2 separate regions of the Homo sapiens genome follow, and region 1 is linked to region 2. Evidence: fine-mapped expression QTL. A gene starts in region 2. The other region holds a variant in brackets. All regions are shown on one strand. Distances are from middle to middle.

Region 1 (2,912 bases), 29 kb before region 2:
TTTTTTTTTGAGACGGAGTCTTGCTCTATCGCCTAGGCTGGAGTGCAGTGGCATGATCTTGGCTCACTGCAACTTCCGCCTCCCAGGTTCAAGTGATTCTCCTGCCACAGCCTCCCAAGTAGCTGGGATTATAGGAGTGCGCCACCATGCCCAGCTAACTTTTGTATTTTTAGTAGAGACGGGGTTTCACCATGTTGGCCAGGCTGGTCTTGACTTCCTGACCTCAGGTGATCTGCCCGCCTCAGCCTCCCAAAGTGCTGGGATTACAGGTGTGAGCCACCGTGCCTGGCCATGTTAAAATACATTTTTAAGGCAATCTGGGAAAACTGAACTTAGACTGCAGCTGGGAAAACTGAACTCAGAGTGCAAACCAAAGGATAATAAGAAATATCCGTTAATTTGGAGCCTTGGGGTAATGGTACTGGGGTTAAGATTTTTAAAAATTTATTTTTCTGTCAGACATGCATACTGAACTACATAATAAAATATTGATGGGTCTAATATGATTTGCTTTAAAATACTCCAGGAAACAAAAATAAGGACCCAGTGAGATGAATGAAACCATGTCACAAGAATGACAGGACGCTAATAACCTGCTGAGGCTTGGCGACGGTGCATGCAGGCTCATAGGGTTATCTCTGCTTTGGACATGGTAGCGCACACCTGTAATCCCAGCTACTTGGGAGGCTGAGGTGGGAGGATTGAATCCAGGAGACTAGCCTGGGCAACACAGTAAGACCCCGTCTCAAAAAACAAAGCAACATTATTATCTCTGCTTTTAGGAATGTTTAAAAGTCTCCTTAGTAAAAAGTAGCAAAAGTGGTAAGGCACCTATGGGAGATGAAGTGCACATGGATTGCTGTGAAGGGTCAGGAGGGCATGCTTGCAAAGTCTGTAATGAAATGTTAAAAAAAAAAAAAAAAAAAAAGCTGGGTACGGTGGTTCACGCCTGTCATCCCAGCACTTTAGGAGGCCAAGGTGGGTGGATCACTTGAGGTCAGGCATTTAAGACCAGCCTGGCCACACGGCAAAACCCCGTCTCTACTAAAAATACAAAAATTTTGTGGTGACGCATGCCTGTAATCCCATTTACTTGGGTGGCTGAGGCACGAGAATCACTTGAACCCAGGAGGCAGAGGTTGCAGTGAGCTGAGATCATGCCACTGCACTCCAGCCTGGGCGACAGAGGAAGACTCTGTCTCAAAAAAAAAAAAGATTTAAAAAAAAGACCAATGATAGAGAAATTATTTACAACATATCTATCAATTAAGTTGTATTGATTAAAAAGCACTTGTTTTGCTAGTAAGCCTATATATTAAAAAATTTAAAAAATTAAATTAAAAGCACCTGTGTGTTGCTGATGGTAGGGAGC[A/G]GAAAGATATTACTTTTTATTTTAATCACTTTTGTTTTATTTTTTACAAAGATCACATATTATTCTTGTAACAGAAATATGTATTTTTTAAAATAGTGAAGTAATGAATTTTGCCTCCATAATACACAATCTTTACAAGTTTCATACAAAAAATTTTAAAACTCTTACCTGGGAAATGTTCTTGGAGGCCATTGTTTGCAAAAGGGCCCTCAAAGCACTACTTATGGCTTCTAGAAAGTCAACATGTTTAGCAAAATCTAAAACACAAAAATGAAATATAAAATTTGCATTTCTCCAAGATAGGCTATTTTGTAGAAGCAACAAACAAAACAAAGCATGCTAAATGTTAATAAATGCTATTCTTAATAAAACAAACAAACAAAAAAAAACCCTCGATATTTAAGCCAAAATATTTAGTTAACAGCCCCCTGTACACTCTATACCTAAGTCTGAAAGATGATCGTGGTTAAAATAATCACAGCAAGGAGGTGTTCTACAGACAGTCCTTGACTTCCAGACACTGGGTTTTCATTTGACTCACACTTCAGCACATAATAAACCTAAGCTAGCTTTTGCAGACTGAATTCTGTCATTCATAGATCTCCATCAGGGTGCTGGGTAGAACTACCTTTGGTGGAGTCAGAATGCTTCCTTGCCAACCCAAGCCCACTGCTTAGCCACACACTGTTGCTTGTGCAGAGCCAGGACATGATGGCACCATCACTTTAACTGACCCAGCATCCCCTTCCCACTCCTACTCCTTATTCGCACACTTTTCTTATTGTCCCTTCTTCCCACACGGGACAAACAGAACACCAGCAGTAAGCCATTATGCTGGCACAGGCACGTGCAAGGGACAGTGAGGGTCACCCAGGGGAGTTGGCTCCTTAACCTCTTTGATGGGAAGAGATTTGCTTGGTGTGGTAGACTGTATTTTCTAAAAATGGCCATGGCAATATTTCAAGTCCTGTGTGATCTTCAAGAACCTTGCCACTTCCCATAAAGATGTGAAATCTACTTCTCCTTTCCTTAAATCAGGGTGGGACTTTGTGACTTCTTCAACCAACAGAATACAAAGTGACGGGCTAGGTCACAAAAGGCAGTATGACTTCCAGCCCTGACGCATGTGTGCATGCTCTTTTTTCTCTCGACTTCCGCCCTGGGAACCCAGCCATCCTGTTATGAGGAAGCCTGCGTCACATGAAGAGGTCACTGTGGGTGTTCTTCCTGACAACCCCTGCACCAACTGCCAGACACGTGAGTGAACAAGACTTCGGATGATTCCAGCCCATACTCTGCGAGTCTTCCAGCAGAGGCCCTAGACTAGTATTTCTCAGCCTCTGCACTACTGACATTTTGGACCAGATAATTCTTCATTTTATGTGTGCGCAGGGGTCTCCTGGGCACCGTAGGATGTGAAGGAACATTCCTGGCCTCAACCCTCTAGACACCAGTTGCAATTTCCAAGTTGTAAAACCAAAAATACCTCCAGACGTTGCCAAATGTCCCCAGGTGGGAGGTGGGAGGGGATAAGTGGCCA
Region 2 (2,912 bases):
CACCATGCCCGACTAATTGTTTATAATTTTTCTACAGACGGGGTCTTGCTATGTTGCCCAGGTTGGCCTTGGACTCCTGGCCTCCAGTGATCCTCCTTCCTTGGCCTCCCAAAGCAATGGGATTACAGGTGTGTGCCACCGCGCCCGGCCCAAGAGCACCCAATTCAAACTTCCCACCCCCAACTCATCATCATCTCGTTTTCCCACAGCAATTCTCACTATTTAATATTATGTTTTACCTTTTTACTAGCTTCCTGTCTGTCTCCCCATCAACATGACTTGTGCCAAGACAGGGATCTTGGCTGTCAACAGATCTCGCTCAAAAGTCTTGGCTGCTCAAAGTCCCCTGCATCTAGAACGATTCCTGACACATGAACTGAAGAGTTCATCCAAGCAAGGGACCCTAAGGAGGGCTTTTGGAGAGTGTAAAACGTGCGCAAGGCGTGAGGGCAGGACGCCTGAGCAGGTGGACGCTGCAGGTGAAGCAGCCAGGTGGACAGATGAGATGCGGGGATACTGGGCTTCTCCGGAGCCTGGAGACTGGCTTCAAATCTCTGCAAACGGGAGACCGGGCCAGTGCCTGATGGCACACAGAAGGCGCTGGGTGACCGCTGCGACCGCCCGCAGCCCAGACGCGGGGGAGGCCAGCGGTGGGCACCGCCCCGCACCCTTCCTGGCTCACCTCAGCGCGCCGGCTGCAGTCTCCCTGACGGCCAGGCTGGGGTCTAGCAGCAGCGGCCCGAGGCGGCGCACGGCGTCTCGTCGCGCCAGGCCCGGGAGTGCCGGCCGCTGCTGCACCAGCCGGGCCAGCCCTGCGCAGGCGCACTCGCGGACCTCGGCGCTCGGGTGCTGGAGCTGCGGATGAGAGCGAAAAGGGTCAGAAGGCGCGCAATGCGCACGCGCGCGGGGCAACCTCGTCTCGCCTCCCGGCCCGACGGAGCCCTCGCCTCACCTTTTCCAGCAGCTCCGCCGCCGGCCCGTCGTCCTCCTCGCCTCCGGTCCCATTCGCCGCCGCAGCCGCCTCGGCCTGACAGTCGCCCGTAGGGGAGAACTGAGGTCGCTTGAAGCGCTTCGTCCGGCTCTTGCCCATGGTGACGTGCGCTGGGCGGACAGACCACCGAGAGAGGAGGGCAACAGCAGGCGGTGGAGGCTGCCGCGCCGTTAACAAGGTCCGTTGCTGCTGCTCAGCTGGGCCGGCTGACGGCTGCAGCACACATGGGCAAGCCGTGCGCAGGCGCACGGCGCGTCGTCTGCCGGGTCGGGGTTGGGGCGGGGCGGGGTGGGGGGAACTGGCGCACGGAGCGCGCAGGCGTGGAAGAGGGCATAGGCGGGGCCAGCTTCGGCAAAGGGGCGGAGCCTTGTGGGTTTACCGGGTAAGTAGGAGGTTGGACTAGAATAGTAACGCCGACCCGGGCGAGAGGATCACTTGAGGCCAGAAGTTCGAGACCATCTTGGGCAACATAGGAAAACACTCCACTCCCTGTCCTCCCCACCAAAAAAATTAAAAATTATCTGGGCATAGTGGCGTGTGTGTGTAGTCCCAGCTACTTGGGACGTTGAAGCCGGAGGATCACTTGACCCCAGGAGTTTGAGGCTGAGGTGAGCCGTGATCCTGCTACTGCACTCCATCCTGGGCGACAGAGCGAGACCCTGTCTCAATCAATCAATCAAGCAACCAATAAGTTAGTAACACCGGCTACAAATAATCAAATGTGATTAAGAATACCTAACTTGCAAGGTTATTGTAAGTTCTGTAAAGTTCATAAAGTTCTGTAAAGTGCCTAACACCAAGCCTGATATATAGCAGGTACTCAAAAAGCATTAACCACGATTTTATTTTGTGTCCCCAGCACCTCCCATAGCTCCTGTCGTAGACAGAGACTAGTTAATGTTTTGGAACGAATGTGTGTCTATATTTGATAAAACAGAATCGCTTAAGAACCTAATCTCCCTGCCTTAGTTTCCTCATCAGTGAAGTGGGGACATCGATAGTATATACCTCATGGAGTTGTTACGAAGACTAAATGTGTTCATATGTTTAAGGTGCTAAGAACAGAGACTGGCAGATACTAAGCACTATGTAAATGTTTGGAAACGTATTTAACAAAGAGATTCTTTTGCAGATATTTGTTGAGTACTAGGTACAGTGCTGGGCATTGGAATAAAGCAGTAATCAAGACAGTTTGGTTCCTGTCCTCTCTCCCTGTCCTTATGGAATTTACAGTCCAGGGAGAGATCTGTTGAATATATAATTATATGAATAACTTTGGTTATAATTGTGGTAAATACTAAGCAGAGGGAAAAGTACAGGAGAATCTTAGGTGGTCTTTATAATTAGACATGTAACGAGTGAGTACTCAATATATGCATAGCTTTGGGTCAATTTTCTTTTTTTCTTTTTGTTTTTGAAACAGAGTCTCACTCTGCTGTCCAGGCTGGAGTGCAATGGTGCGATCTCGGCTTATTGTAACCTCTGCCTTGGAGTTCAAGCAGTCCTCCTGCCTTAGCCTCCTAAGTAGCTGAGATTACAGGTATGTGCCACCATGCCCAGCTATTTTTTTTTTATTATTATTTTTAGGAGAGACGGGGTTTTACCACGTTGGTCAGGCTGGTCTCGAACTCTTGATCTCAAATGATCTGCCTGCCTCAGCCTCCCAAAGTGCTAGTATTACAGGTATGAGCCACCACGCCCAGGCTCAGGTCAACATTCTACTGGAGAAAATTTCCATTCCATGGTAACCCTACTGTCAAAGAGTTGACTGTCCAGTAAGGGAAATTAATTACTATGGCAAATTTTAGAGAGTAACAGAAGTGTAGCTCATGTTGCATTTGGGCCTATCAAAGATCAATCTTGGGCTGGGCACTGTGGCTCACACCTGTAATCCCACCACTTTGGGAAGCCAAGGTGAGCA

Evidence for each region.
Region 1: its variant is fine-mapped to the expression of HEATR3 in whole blood (INTERVAL, PIP above 0.99).

The regions. Positions count from the first base shown.
Region 1 is chr16:50,093,422-50,096,333 of GRCh38, reverse strand. HEATR3 (HEAT repeat containing 3) reads right to left here. Exons shown (of 15, transcript NM_182922.4): 12 at 1,541-1,629. Among named protein-coding and RNA genes, the nearest start is that of HEATR3-AS1, 29 kb to the right of the region's middle. The variant A/G (reference allele first, on the strand shown) is at 1,373.
Region 2 is chr16:50,064,310-50,067,221 of GRCh38, reverse strand. It overlaps HEATR3 (HEAT repeat containing 3), which reads right to left and starts at 1,252. Exons shown (of 15, transcript NM_182922.4): 1 at 953-1,252; 2 at 683-855. The coding sequence starts at 1,090. HEATR3-AS1 (HEATR3 antisense RNA 1) reads left to right here and starts at 898. Exons shown (of 3, transcript NR_186390.1): 1 at 898-1,169; 2 at 2,415-2,531. RefSeq lists silencers at 530-789, 870-919, 1,250-1,299 and an enhancer at 1,150-1,444.